Homo sapiens: one gene and its partners. The protein of the gene in region 4 interacts with the protein of the main gene of each other region in a biochemical or structural test. Each region holds a gene or a part of one and is shown on either strand. Other genes may lie near its edges.

Region 1 (4,152 bases), about 120 Mb from region 4:
ATGACTATAATCTATTCCTGAAGCAACAGCAAACTGCCATTAGCTTGCACATTTAGCCAAATGTTCACAGGCTGGGATATTAGCAAGAACTCGTAGTAACACTTGAAATACATTCAGAACCCAATTTTATGTGCAGGAAGTTTTCTTTAAAATTTTTAAAGCTAGAATACTATTTTTGAGACAAGAACAGGACACAAGAGTATACACTGTACAGATACCTACTTCAAATTGTTACTAAGAATACATGGGATAATTCCACAACTTGGCTTTCTGTGCCTTAGATGGGACTCCTAAAAGGCTCTAAAGTGGGTCTCATATACGAAAAACATGTACTAATAGTTAAAGGATATCATATAAATGAAAATCTCATAAATTTTCAGTGTAGAGACTACCACCAATTACCTTCTCATTATTTCCTTTTGGCTTCAAATTAATTCAACAAATATTCAGGGAACACCTATTGATTTTTTTTAAGGCCATTTTGCTAGGATCTGGGGTTATAGTAATAAAGGTAAACTCCCTGCCATCAAGGCGCTCACAGTCTAATTCTGAACACCACCAAAGAAAAGAGCACATGAGGGTGACATTTCCAGCTCTAAGGCAGCAGAAGGTATGCATTATACATTTTTTGCATACCCTTCAATCAAGCAATAAAAAATCTTCCCGTTCGACCCTGTGGGAGGAGGCACTTGTGTGGTTCGGTCTGGCAGGACCACCGCCGTGTTGAAAGTCCCCCCAGACAGCTGTGCCCAGCACGGCAGTTTCGTTGGGGTCTAGGGAAAGGGCAGGGTCAGACTGGTCACAATCAGGGCTGGAGATTTTTTGGAGTCAACTCTCCCAAAGGCAATGGGGTCTACTGCTTTATTAGGAAAATGGAAAGAAAAAAGGGAGGGAAACAATGTACCCAGGCGCCCCCACCGCATTCTGATTGGACCCACTTAAGCATCTGCAGAAAACAATAAAATGAAAAAAACTCTTAGAGGTGAAACTCAAAGGTCAACCTCTGGCTGTGCGGGACAATGGGTGTCCGGCCTTCCCTTCCCTTCCCTTCCGAAGTGATGAAGGAGTTCCAATGTTCTGCGAACACTGGAAACCCCAGCGGATCCCTCTAACTCCAGGGCAGCGAAACCACTGGCAGCGGACAGAGGGAGGATTGTCGGTGTGTGAATTGCTACCCTGGGATCCGGACCCAGAGCGGCAGCCGCGCCCCTCCGCCCCCCGCGCGACCCCGGGTCCGAGGCACGCTCCCAGCGGAGCGGTCCTGCGCCCCCGCCCCCTCCAGGAGCCGCGGCGCGCACAGCCGGGCTGGAGCGCGCACCCGGCACTGAGGCTTCGCTGCTCTCGGAGCGCTCAGACCGCGGCCGCCGCAGCCGGCGAAAGAGGCAAAGTCCCGCACGCCGGAGGACATGCGCCTCGGCTAGCGGCCCCGGGCCCCACCACCGTGCGGCTTTCTCCAGATTATTCCTCTCTCGCTGTCTCTGACTGTCTCTCTCTGTCTCTGTCTCTGTCTCTCTCTCTCTCACACACACACACACACACACAAACACACATACGCACGCACGATCTCACTTCGATCTATACACTGGAGGATTAAAACAAACAAACAAAAAAAACATTTCCTTCGCTCCCCCTCCCTCTCCACTCTGAGAAGCAGAGGAGCCGCACGGCGAGGGGCCGCAGACCGTCTGGAAATGCGAATCCTAAAGCGTTTCCTCGCTTGCATTCAGCTCCTCTGTGTTTGCCGCCTGGGTGAGTGAGAAGAGCTCGGTGGGGTTTCAGCTCCGGGATCGGTGGGATGAGGGTGGGAGCATTTCAGCGTGTCCGCGACTTGCCGCCGCCGCCGCCATCTAGCCAGGAGGAAAAAGGGACAGCCAACTGGGCTCCCACGGAGCGGGCGGCCGCGCGGTGCAGGCAGCTGCGTGGGATTTGCGCGCCCCCTCCCCGCCCCGCGCCCTCGCCCCTTCCATCGGCCCGCGGGCATTCGTGCCCCGGGCCCCAGGAGACGGAGCTACTGGAGACGGAGGGCTACTCGGATCCCTGCCGCCACCGTTCTTCTCTCCTCTTTTGCAAAGTGTAGAAATCGCCTTTTAGATATACATAGGAAGATAAATGACCAGAAATACAGCTGTGGTGCGGGGCTGTGTACTGTACTGTCTTTTTTGCTGTTCATTTTTATGCTATAGGTATGATGGGCTTAAATGGAAAGTACACGTGTCTGGTGTGAATTGCAGACACACACACACACACACACACACACCTGAAAGGTAGTAACAGGCACAAGCACCAACCTGACTTTTCAGGGTTTTTTTTATTACTTTCAATTTAGTCATATTCAAGTCTGCGCAATTACTTACAAAAAAAAAAGTTCCATCTAAATCTCTAGGTTTGGTCAGTGCTGCCAAAGTCAGAGGAGAGCTGCAGGTTGATATACTTATTCACAGATTTCATTTTTCATCTGCACCCTCCAGGTTACATTTAAAACTGAAATTGCATTCAGCAATAGCCAGTTTAAGCATTCCCTTTACCTGCGATGCAGACTCAAGTTTTCCAGTCATTTTCGAGAAGTGCAAGATTGGACTTTTGCGTTTTATTAAAGAAATGCTTTTTTTCCTTCATGATTTTCCATCGCGATAGAATATAATGGGTTTACGCATTAACCTGAAAGTTACAAAGTGTTGTACTTCGCTTTGTGAGTACACATATTTAATTCTTTTCAGAGGCTCCCAATTTTTCAATTTTAGATGGTTCATAGTAGAGTAGATATTAAGCGTACATTTTCATCCAATAGATGGTGCTGCTCTTGGCACAGTAACCTTTACAAACAGAAACTATTTTTAAGTTCTAATAAATGAAAATTACATTGCAAATACGGTGATAATTGCCCATAGACCCCCACACACGGACATAATTTAAATTTCAAAGGCTTTATGAAAGTGCTTGGGGTGGTGTGATGCATAGTTGACACATAAGACATGCAAGGGAATCTCTGGTCTCCATTGATTCTAAAACCTTATAGTCAGTTCTGGAGAGGGGAAGACAGCTTTAAAAAGTACGTGGTCATCAAACATCTGTTGAATTCACATTTCTATTGTAGATCTATTTTAACAAAGAAGGCAGGTCCTCTTAGTAATTAAATTATGTAAGTAAATATCACAGTAGCAAGGAAATAAACCAGAGAGTATTGCTTTGTATGTCTTCAAAACCACATGCCCAGAGCATGTTGCGGATCTCTTTGAAAAAAAAAAAAAGATAAAATTCACACATTATACAATTCATCTTTTTAAAATGGTCCAGTGGTTTTTAATATATTCGTGAAGTTGTGCAGCCATCACCACTAATTCCAGAATGTTTTAATGACCCCAAAAAGAAACCCCATGTTCCTTAGCAGCCATTCCCCATTCTCCATGACCCCAGCTCCTAGCAACCACTAATCTACTTTCTGTCTCTATAAATTTGCCTATCCTGGACATTTCATATAAATAGAATCATGCAACTTGTGGCCTTTTCTGTCTGTCTTTGTTCACTTGGCATAATGTTTTCAGTTTCATCCATGTTATAGTATGTATAAGTACTTCATTCCTTTTTGTGGCTGAGTAATATTCCATTATGCCAATATACTAAATATATCACATTTGCAAAGGTTTTTCTCTGTAAAGCATTATTTGTAGCCTATTTTTGGTTGTATAGTTTTCAGTTTGTTGGACATTTTCTTTAAGTCTTTGGTGATGTAAAATTTAAGTGTAAAGAATTTAATTAACTTTTAAAGACTATCACAAGCTTATGTAATGCTACTGAATGTAAGCTTGCATTGGAACTCCAAGTGAGTTTTGTTGAGACTGGAAGGTGACTACTTTTGTATTCCTCACCATTTTAACAAAGTTGGCCTTTTACACAGTTGCCAACAGGCTGACCTGGAGGCATTGGCAACATCAAGTAACATAAATATCTTGATCTTGGGGCAGCATGTTTTGAAAAAGTGAGGCACATTATCTTCAAATGAAAAAGTTAGGCTCCATTTCAATTATTTTTCACTCAGCACCTACTTCAGTGTTTGTGGATGCGTTTACCCCTCATCTTCAGTGTTCTTAGAGCCAATGAGGTAGCCTGACATATGTATTAAGTGCTCAGTAAGGGTCTGTCAACTGACTAAAA
Region 2 (3,500 bases), on a different chromosome or scaffold from region 4:
TGCTTTTCTGTGATTACCCTGTTATCTTAAGTAGTCTTTTAGAAGACAGGAAGCAAACATGAGCTTCCCATTCTCCTTGTTGGACTTATTCAAGTCAGCATTTATTAAATTTTTTCCATATTAAGTGGGATGAATTAAGGCCAGGGGAGAATGAATCAAAGACCTTCCTCTAGAGAAGCATACACTCAAGAGGAAGACAAATAAATGTTAACTGTAATTAAAAAACAGAATTAAATACATGATACAAAGAGTGCTGTAATCCAAGTCTAATGGAAGTAAAGAGAAGGGGATCTTACTTTCAACTTAGTGATGGGAAGGAGTGGATCCAGAAGAGCTTCATGAGGAGGGAAGCATTTAAATCGGGTCTTAAAGGAGGTTTGCAAAAGCTAAAGGGTTTTGTACCAACTTTGTTTTCAACATGGGAAAGACAGGATTTCAAACTTTATTTTGTTTTAGGAACCAAATCCAGTGCTCCTCCATTGTTGGAATAAATGCTCTTTGCCTGAATGCTATTTGTGGTCTTCGTAGAATGGAGAGTAACTGAAGGCCCCACCGGAAATCAATTTTATGTAAGCTTTTCATTCTCTGGCCTCAAGTATTTCTAAAATGTACCTTTCTATGCAGGCTACTTATTCAGGCAACTATTTTCAGGTGAAGATACTCAAATGAAAATAGAGAATCCCTTTTGGCCTTTTGCTAATATTTCATTTGTCAAAACTTTGATAGTCTGACAAAGTCTTTACCATGAGATTGGTAAACTCACGGAAGCCAAACTGTCTGGGATGCGACTTCAGCTCCACTACTTACGAACTCCATAATAATGTACCTAGCCTGCCTATACCTCAGTTTCCCATCTATAAAGACAATAAAAGCACCTATTTCACTCATGAGAATGAACTGAGTTATTACACGGAAAACTTAAAAACATATCCAACATACCATAAATCAACAGTAAATGTAACTATTTTTACCAAGAGGTGTCTTCAAAGAGTTTATTTCTAATTCATTACACCAATTAATAAGAAAGGCACTTTCTCATCCTATTTCACTTTTACAAGGCAGACATTTTTTTTCAAGACGGAGTCTCACTCTGTCGCCCAGGTTGGAGTAAAGTGGCACGATCTCGACTCAGTGCAACCTCCGCCTCCCAGGTTCAAGCAATTCTTCTACTTCAGCCTCCCAATCCCAGTAGCTGGGATTACAAGCACCCACCACCACGCCCAGCTAATTTTTGTATTGTTAGTAGAGACGGGGTTTCACCATATTTGCCAGGCTGGTCTTGAACTCCTGACCTCAAGTGATCCTCCTGCTTTGGCCTCCCAAAGTGCTGGGAATACAACAATGAGCCAGTGCACCCAGCCAACAAGGCAGACTTTGAAACTGTGTTTATCTTCCAAAAATACGTATATCTTAAGAAAAAACTAAATTTGATTTCTAAACAGTAACAGCAGTAACAGAGAAATAGCTTATTTCAAAAGGTCCACAACTTCATCAAGGACAGGACAAGCAAGAATCATATTGTATTATAACAAATTTTTACAATTCACCAAAGTTAGGTTTTACAACTAAACTAACAGTTCACTTCTCTTTTTCCTTTGTTTCTTAGGCCCTTACAGCCTAATACTCTATCATTCCATTTTCTATAGATCACATAGGAAAACATTTTGAGATCACACAGCTATTCGCAAACATCTGACTGAAGCAATAGTATAGTTTTCATTATGAACCAAGTAAAAAATTGAGTTGAGTAAATTTTATTCTATTCTTTCCAGGATGTTGCAATCCCTACGCAACCAAGGTTTCAAGTTAAAGAGAATTTGGCTGACCCACTCACAGCAACAAGGAAAATATGATACAGGCTGTAGATTCTGATAAGGATTATAGCAGATGAATGTAGAGAATGTGGTGATCATCCTTGAAAAGCTCCCTGGTTGCAGCAGCTGAAATGTTAGTGCTGGAGTTAAAGAACTCTGGCTGGGTTCAAGTCTTAGCTCTGCCTCTTGCAAGGTATATAGCCAGAGAAAAATTAGCTTCTCATTTACTTAATCTTGTAAACTAGGGACAATAAATGGTTTTGTTGTGAAAATTCAATTAGCATTTGATGACCTGCACAGTGGCTTATGCCTGTAATCCCAGCACTTTGGGAGGCTGATGTGGGAGGATCACTTGAGCCCAGGAGTTCAAGACCAGTCTGAGCAAGATAGTGAGACCTTGTCTTTACAAAAAATTGTAAAAATTTAGCCAGGAGCAGTGGTGCGTGCCTGTGGCCCCAGCTCCTTAAGAGGCTGATGTATGAGGATCACGTGAGCGCAGGAGGCTGAGGTTGCAGTGAGCCTTGTCTGTGCAGCTGCACTCCACCCTGTGCAACAGAGCAAGACCCTATCTCAAAATAAATACAATGAATAAACACGTGAAAAACATTTCAAACAGTACTTGCCACACAGTGCTATATAAGTGTCTATTCAACACTGCAATAACTTTGGCCATTCATGGTTGTATCCACATGCAGATACGAAGATGGTTGCATTTTTTGGAGTAGGCCTTCTCTCAGCATAAACAAAACAAGTGTTCAGAATGATCTTTTAACATTTGATGCTAGAGTAAATGACCATAACAACTACTATAATGGTATTATTTATTTAATATCTGGATACTTAAAAAAATGTATTTGAGGCCAGGTGTGGTGGCTCATGCCTGTAATCCCAGCACTTTGGGAGGCTGAGGCTGGCAGATCACTTGAGGTCAGGAGCTTGAGACCAGCCTGGCCAACATGGTGAAACCCTGTCCCTACTAAAAACACAAAAACTAGCCGGGTGTGGTGGCACGCACCTGTAATCCCAGCTACTCAGGAGGTTGAGGCAGGAGAATCACCTGAACCTGAGAGGCGGAAGTTGCAGTGAGCCAAGATCATTCTACTGCGCTCCAGCCTAGGCAAAAGAGCAAGACTCCATCTCAGAAAAAAAAAAAAAAGAAAAAGTATTTGGTTTTAAAAGTATTTTAGAAATGCAAAAACCACATGCATTTTGATATTTTCTAGACATCTAGATATCTTCATAATTAGAAGAGTCTATCTAAGGTAATGTTCACTTATTCTAGCAGCTAAAAATGAAAACAGTGAAGACCTTAATTTGTAGCCACTACATATATAGCTTAAGTATCCCGGCTTACGGGAGAGAAGATCCCTTTAAAAAAAAAATTTAAATGGAAAAATATCCCAACCAACTCCTCTCCAAAAAGGTAAGTACTACAGAAGATAATAAAAAGCTAAGTCACTGAACTTCTTCAGTTTCATTCATTTTTTTATGTTTACAATGGGACTTCCTTGAGCAGAAGGAACCAATCCTTGAAAACAATCAATTCCTGATCACTCTTTTCCAATCCTGCACTAATGCACTGTCTCACACAAACCGAAAATATGTTCTAAGTCAAAATGTGTCCAGGGGTCGGGCGCGGTGCCTCACGCCTGTAATCCCAGCACTTTGGGAGGCCGAGGCGGGTGG
Region 3 (3,500 bases), on a different chromosome or scaffold from region 4:
TTGTGGTTACAGGAAGGACAAAAAGTAAATAAGCCCATAATGTCGTGTACATTCAGAATTTTTATTTTAAAACAAAGAACCAGAGTAACAATAGAAAATCCATATGGAAATATTCACAATCTTCTCAGTGAGAAATGGGACCCTGCCTTACTGCCAACCTACTGTTTGAGGAGCCAGAAGTTGACATGAAGTTGCAAGGTCACCTTTTCAAGCTAAAGCACACTTGATAGCTATGTGCATTTTTTTTTTTTTGAGACGGAGTCTCGCCCTGTGGCCCAGGCTAGAGTGCAATGATGCGATCTCCGCTCACTGCAACCCCTGCGTCCCGGGTTCACATGATTCTCCCGCCTCAGCTTCCCAAGTAGCTGGGATTACAGGCGCCCGCCACCACGCCCGGCTAATTTTTGCATTTTTAGTAGAGACAGGGTTTCACGATGTTGGCCAGACTGGTCTCGAACCCCTGACCGCCCGCCTAGGCCTCCCAAAGTGCTGGGATTACAGGCGTGAGCCACCGCATCCGGCCTCAGCTACGTGCATTTTTATTCAAAGGCTCCAGGAGCAGAGGGAACAGTGAGAACTAAGAACCAAAATACTGTCACTGACAAGGGTTTGGCTAAAGGGTCTGAGATGTGTAAGCACCAAGAAGGGAAAGGGAGACTGAGCAACATATGAAAAAGGGGCTGTAGGAACAAACACAGAGAAAATAAGTCAACAATAACGTACTTCCACCCAGAGCAAAGTGACAGTGCACATACATTCATCCTCTCAAGTGTGGGCTACACTGCACATTGACTCATACTGTCTAAACCTGGTTTATTGGAAAGATTCAAGTCCCCTGAGGGCATTCGGCATAGGACCACAGTGACATGGTAACAGACATACGCAAGCGTGCCGTGAGCCTAAAGCAACAACACACTTTAGATAATAATCGCTCAGAAAAAAATCCTCTCCCAGAGCTGAGGTTACAAATTCCAAGTTTGCTATAAACATTCTTTGGGGAATTCCTTTAAAGGTATGAGTTAAAATACAACAGAAAATCAACACCTAAAATCTCCTAAAGAACAAAGTGGAAAAATAATGAATCTCTACCAAGAACCAATTATTTTAGGTTTCTTATTTGGATGGCTCTCCCACGAGATAGGTGGCGGGATTACTTCAAAAGTAATGAGACTACTACAAGAAGGAGTTATTTCATCCAGTGAGGGGAACAGGCTTTCTAGAAATCACTTTCTCTTCCCTGGACTCCATCCAAAATTAGAACCCATCAACCATCATTAACTACAATGCCCATATTAGTTAATAATCCTAGATTTCAAGTACTACTACATGTAAACTATTATCTTAAAGAAAAAAGCTCCAAAGGAAATCAGTAGCTTTATTATATAGGTATATGACTTTTACGAGAAGTTAAAGAGTTTCCATCTGAAGGACAGAAATTGTTAAGAGGTAACGTACAGACCTCAGGCACCACATCATTTACCCTCCAATAATGAACAACATTTCTCCCTAAATTCTTATTGCACCTTAACCTCTCCAGCATCAAATCTTCTACTCTATAACCTCTCTTTAAACACCTCCCTCTAATCTCAATTTCCTTCTGTTTTTATTATTTGGCAAAATTACGCTTAAAAAAATAAATATTTCCATCATGGCATATATATACCTATGTAACAAACCTGCACATTCGGCACATGTATCCTGAAACTTAAAGTTAAAAAAAAAAAATTATGTAATTAAACCAGAGGATAAAATAAATAAAACTCAAGTTAATTTGCCACGTAGAGCTGTATGGAAGTGAGGAAGGTGCTCTTACATAAACACCCTCCGGCTTCCACACTCATATGTATCTGCTTCCTGGTAAGTCTGAGGTTGGGGGAACTGCACCTTACTTTTCCTCTCCTATATCCCCTAGTGCGGCAATATCAGAACCCAAGGGAGGAAAAGCTGGCAAAGTTGTCATGTGCCAAGCGGCCAATCCCTCCTGAAATGAAGGTAGGTTCACTCGGTCTCTCCTAAGCAGAAGAGGATGTCCAGGAAATAAAATTTAAAAAGCCATTGAAGATCCAACAAACCGCAGCCTTGGGGTGCTCATGGAGTGCGTGGGATGAGAAAGGAATTAAGTAGCAGCATTCAGAAGCGTCCTGGGTTCATCCTGATGAGGTCTCTCCCTTGTTGAGGGAGAGGTGGCTTTCCCATGCCGGGAGGGAGGTGGAAGGAGGCACGACTTAGACATTGGTGGTGGTCTCCTTAGCAGGCTCGATGCTGTTCATCTCCATGACGCCGTCCTTTCCAGATCTATCTGCACCGTGTGCCTGCCCTTCAAAGGCCCGTGTGATATCCTCAAAAGTCCTGCCACGGGTCTCAGGGACTTTGAAGAAGGTAAAAGCCAAGAAGGTAATGAGGAAGCCGGTGAAGATAATAAAAACGTAGGCTCCTAAATAGTGCTAGAGAAAGGACAGAAAAAAGGAAGGTTGATATAAAAATCTGGTCATTGACAAAGTCAATTTCCTTCACATTCATATTTCCAATAGGCTTCAAGCTATAACCCTTCCATATTTAATGAAAACAGGTTTCTTCAGATTCGCTTATGATTCCATTGCTAACTTACTGTAGTTCTCTCTAGTTTTCTTTCTGTCATTCCATTTCATTACAGTTAGATGCTTCCAAATGTCTACTGAGTATTTTTGGACTTTTGAGTATTATTTTTAAAATCTGTGTTTCTGGGCCGAGTGCGGTGGCTCACGCCCATAATCCCAGCACTTTGGGAGGTCAAGGTGGGAGGATCACTGGAACCCAGCAGTTTGAGACTAACCTGGGCAACTCCATCTCTATTTATGAATTTTTTTTTTTTTGAGACGGAATCTCGCTCTGTCACCCAGGCTGGAGAGCAGAAGGTTGATCACAGCTCACCATGAACACCTCCTGGGTTTAAGTGATTCTCTTGCCTCAGTCTTCTGAGTAGCTAGGACTACAGGTGTGTGCTACCGCAATGGTGTGATCTCGCTCACTGGGATTACAGTCATGAGCCACGACACCCGGCCTAATTTTTGTATTTATTGTAGAAACAGGGTTTCACCATGATAGTCAGGTTGGTCCCCAACTCCTGACCTCAAGTTATCCACCCGCCTAGGCCTCTCAAAGTGCTGGAATTACAGGCTTGAGCCACTGTGTCTGGCCGCAAATTAAACTTTATGAATTATTTATTTCTGCAATTTTCCATTTAATATTTTTAGACTACAGGTAACTGAAACTGAAGAAGAGGAGGGACTGCTGTATTTTTTTATTTATTTAGGGATGGAGTCTTGCTTCCATCGAGCAGGCTAGAGTGCAGTAACGCGATCTCAGCTCGCTGCAACCTCCACCTCCCAGGTTTAAGCGATTCTCCTTCCTCGATCTCCCAAGTAGCTGGAATTACAGGCATGCACCACCATGCCCAGCTAATTTTTGAATTTCACCATGTTGGCCAGGCTGGTCTTGAACTCCTGACCTCAGGTGATCCA
Region 4 (3,184 bases):
TAATTTTGTGTATTTTTAGTAGAGATATGGCTTCACTATGTTGGCCAGGCTGGTCTTGAACTTCTGGCCTCAGGTGATCCACCTGCCTCAGCCTCCCGAAGTGTTGGAATTACAGGCGTGAGCCCCCACGCCCTGCCTGCAGAGGTTTTAACTGACCTCCTGACATGTTTCCCAGAGACACAGGCACTGGGAACTTTTGGAAACAATTCTGCTTGAGCTGCTAGGGTGAAATGTACCCCACTAGCCACATCCCCCTTGCAGTATATATTTTGGTTTTGATGTTTTTGTATGGTGCTTGTGTGCAAGGAACAAAAAAACAAAGGTGGCTTCCAAGAGGGGCCTAGGGGAGACTGGGAAGAACTGAACAGGTTCCCAGTACTGCCCAGGTGCAATGTAAGCCATTTGATTGCAGTGGGAGAAAAAGAATCCATGAGACAGGATTAAAGCCCATTTCAGACTTTTCCAAAAAAAAAAAAAAAAAAAAGTGCAACGAGGGAAGCTGTCTGATCCAAGGATCTGTCAATCAGAGAATTTTAAAAAAGGTGAAACAGTTCACACACCCTCCCTCCCTGCCCACCACGCCACCTGCTCCTGCTCCTGGTATCCAGGTAACTCCTGCTATATGCCTAGGCACATGTAAAATGACCATTTGGGTCCCAAACACATCCCAGATTGTGTCATCTGCCCCCACACCTGCCCCGGTCTCATGACTTGCTCCAGGGAACATCACCATCCGTCCAGGTGAGAAGTCTGGCAGTTGGCCACCAGATCCTGCTCACCTCCTGCCTCAACACCTCCCCATTCTGTCTGCTCTACCTTGACCACACCTATTCCACTCCCAGGCTCCCCACTTCCAATTGGGCCACCTCTACACAGGTTTGGGTTTGTCCACTGCATGAAACCTCAATTCCGCAGTCTGACATAGGGGGTCTTCCTTCTCCAGTCCTTCCTTCCCTGCGTCTCTCCCAGGCTTCTCTCTTCCTGTGTCCCTGAAGCCAGCTTCCAAGGCCCAGGCTGGGCGTGCACATCCCCAGGGCCCCTCTACATCCGGCTTTCTGCCCTCTCGCGTCTCGCGCCTGCCTGCAGGGTCGTGCTCAAGGGTGTCGGCCCCCTCACAGGGACCCACTAGGAGCAGGATCAGAAAAAAGGTCCACATGTCCCAGGAATGTGGCCACTTTGTAATCCACCCTCCAGGCCCCCCTGACAGCCTGGGAGCGAAGTGGGAAGTGGGCCCAAGAAGCCGACAGAGCACGGTCCTCCATGTGCAGGCACACTCAGCACCTGCTCCTACAGCATCTGGCTCTGGGCCTGGGGGTAGGAACAAGGGCTGGCAGAGGAGGGCCCGACCACAGCTCGGCGGCTGAGGTAGCTGCAGGAGAGGCTGGCGGTGTGCTCAGAGCCCGGGGCACAGTGGCCCCGGACCTCGGCAGTGTCTGGGCTGCCCTCTCGGCCTCCATCTCCCTGCTCAGGCCGCAGAGGACGCGGTGTGGCCACTGTCACCAGGCCAGGGGTGAAACCATCCCGGAGCTGCGCAGGCCCTCCCCGGCCTGCAGGTCACTCAGCGCTCGCTGGGGAGGGGGAACACAGAGGTAGGGTGGTCAGTGGTCCCAGGAACCTGTGACGCCTTCCCTGTCTCTTCCCACACTAGACAGCCCATCAGGGGGTTAGGGGGACATGTCGCTCACTGGAGCCCCTTTCCCAGCCCTGGCTTCATGGAGGATCCCTTCATTTGGCCTCTGGCCCCCACCTCTCCAAAAGGGCCCCTCAGGGCTCCAGCGAGGCTCACCTCGAATTTGCTCATGAACTCTGCAAAGATGCCGAAGAAAGCCTCAGAGGTGGTGGCCTTGGAATCCTCCCCAAAGAAGGCCAGCGCCTTGCCCAGCTCCTCCATGGCCTCGCGCTGCAGCCCGTCGAGCGCCCGAAGTGCTGGCTGGGCCGTCTCCAGGAAGGACTGACAGGCCTCAGTTAAGGAAACAGCCAGCCCGCTTGTGCCCCCAGGGTCTCAGGTGGTGGCCCGACAGACAGGTCCCTAGCAGCCCTATTCCCGGTTGGCCTGAGTCCTTCCAAGGGCCAGGCCCTGTGTCCAACAGGGAACCAGGCCCTGTTCAGGGACTCTAGTCCCACTGGCCACTGAACTCATCCTGGAACTGGCCACAGCCAGTGCAGCCTCAGGCCATTCACCCCTGTTCTCTCTGCAGGGCCAGGCCCTGGGTCTCTGATCAGAGGCTTCCACTGCCACCTTCTTCCCCAACCACTCATTTACAGTAGGCCCCTCTGTCACTCTCTAGGCCTTACTTTTTTTTTTTTTTTTTTTTTTTTTGAGACAGGGTCTTATTCTGTCGCTCAGCCTGGAGTGCAGTGGTGTGATCACAGCTCACAGATCATTCCAGCCTCTACCTCCCAGGCTCAAGTGATCCTCCCACCTCAGCCTCCCGAGCAGCTGGGACCAGAGGTTTACACCACCATACCCAGCTAATTTTTTGATTTTTAAAATAGAGATGGGGTGTATGTTGCCTAGGGTGGTCTCAAACTCCTGGGCTCAAGTGATCCTCCCACTTTGGCCTCCCAAAGTGCTGGGATTACAGGTGTGAGCCACTGCACCTGGCCTTAGGCCTTACTCTGTTTTCTAGAGCATTTGTCATGATCTGAAATTGTTCATAAGTTCATTTCCTACTGCCTAAGTGAAAGCTCGCTCCCTCCTTGCACCTCCAGGGCTTAGAATAGCATCTGATACATGGTCAGTCTTGCAAAAAGATTCAGTGGCTGAATCGCTATCATTTTTTCAGCACTTAAAATGGTGCCGAGCTTTGTTCCAAGCTTGTTGAATCATCGTTTAACACCTCTATGAGGTAGATTATCTCTATTTTACATGTGAACAAATTAAAGCACACAGGACTTTAGCAACTAGCCCAAGATCACACAGCAAGCACTGTGGTGCCTGAGCCACGGTTGAACCCACCAGGGTCACATCAATTAATGACCACTGTGGTAGAGGTTCTCATGACCCCTCTTTTTCCTGATGAGAAAACTGGGCTCACAGAGGGTAACTGACTTGCCCATAGTCCCACAGCAGGTAAGGAAATGAGCCAGGATTTGGGCCTATGCCTGTCTGATGTGCCAGGTCAATTTCCTTTGCAGAGGCTGCCTTTAATTAATTAATTAATTAATTTTGAGACAGAGTCTC

The links. Proteins that work in one complex are often made in the same cells at the same time.
Region 1: the proteins of GRID2IP (region 4) and PTPRZ1 interact in a test that uses a peptide from one of them, tested with the Homo sapiens proteins (one large-scale study listed by IntAct).
Region 2: the proteins of GRID2IP (region 4) and ABCA1 interact in a test that uses a peptide from one of them, tested with the Homo sapiens proteins (one large-scale study listed by IntAct).
Region 3: the proteins of GRID2IP (region 4) and SLC2A3 interact in a test that uses a peptide from one of them, tested with the Homo sapiens proteins (one large-scale study listed by IntAct).

What each region holds. Positions count from the first base shown.
Region 1 is NC_000007.14:121,871,809-121,875,960, forward strand, and holds the start of PTPRZ1 (receptor-type tyrosine-protein phosphatase zeta isoform 1 precursor), read left to right. Parts: upstream 1-1,352; 5' UTR 1,353-1,691; coding exon 1,692-1,749; intron 1,750-4,152. UniProt on the Homo sapiens protein: Protein tyrosine phosphatase that negatively regulates oligodendrocyte precursor proliferation in the embryonic spinal cord. Required for normal differentiation of the precursor cells into mature, fully myelinating oligodendrocytes.
Region 2 is NC_000009.12:104,921,656-104,925,155, forward strand, and holds part of ABCA1 (phospholipid-transporting ATPase ABCA1), read right to left. Parts: intron 888-3,500; exon of another isoform or gene 457-887; intron 1-456. UniProt on the Homo sapiens protein: Catalyzes the translocation of specific phospholipids from the cytoplasmic to the extracellular/lumenal leaflet of membrane coupled to the hydrolysis of ATP.
Region 3 is NC_000012.12:7,919,188-7,922,687, forward strand, and holds the end of SLC2A3 (solute carrier family 2, facilitated glucose transporter member 3), read right to left. Parts: intron 2,445-3,500; coding exon 2,226-2,444; 3' UTR 43-2,225; downstream 1-42. UniProt on the Homo sapiens protein: Facilitative glucose transporter. Can also mediate the uptake of various other monosaccharides across the cell membrane. Mediates the uptake of glucose, 2-deoxyglucose, galactose, mannose, xylose and fucose, and probably also dehydroascorbate.
Region 4 is NC_000007.14:6,496,278-6,499,461, forward strand, and holds the end of GRID2IP (delphilin), read right to left. Parts: intron 1,952-3,184; coding exon 1,787-1,951; intron 1,569-1,786; coding exon 1,497-1,568; 3' UTR 501-1,496; downstream 1-500.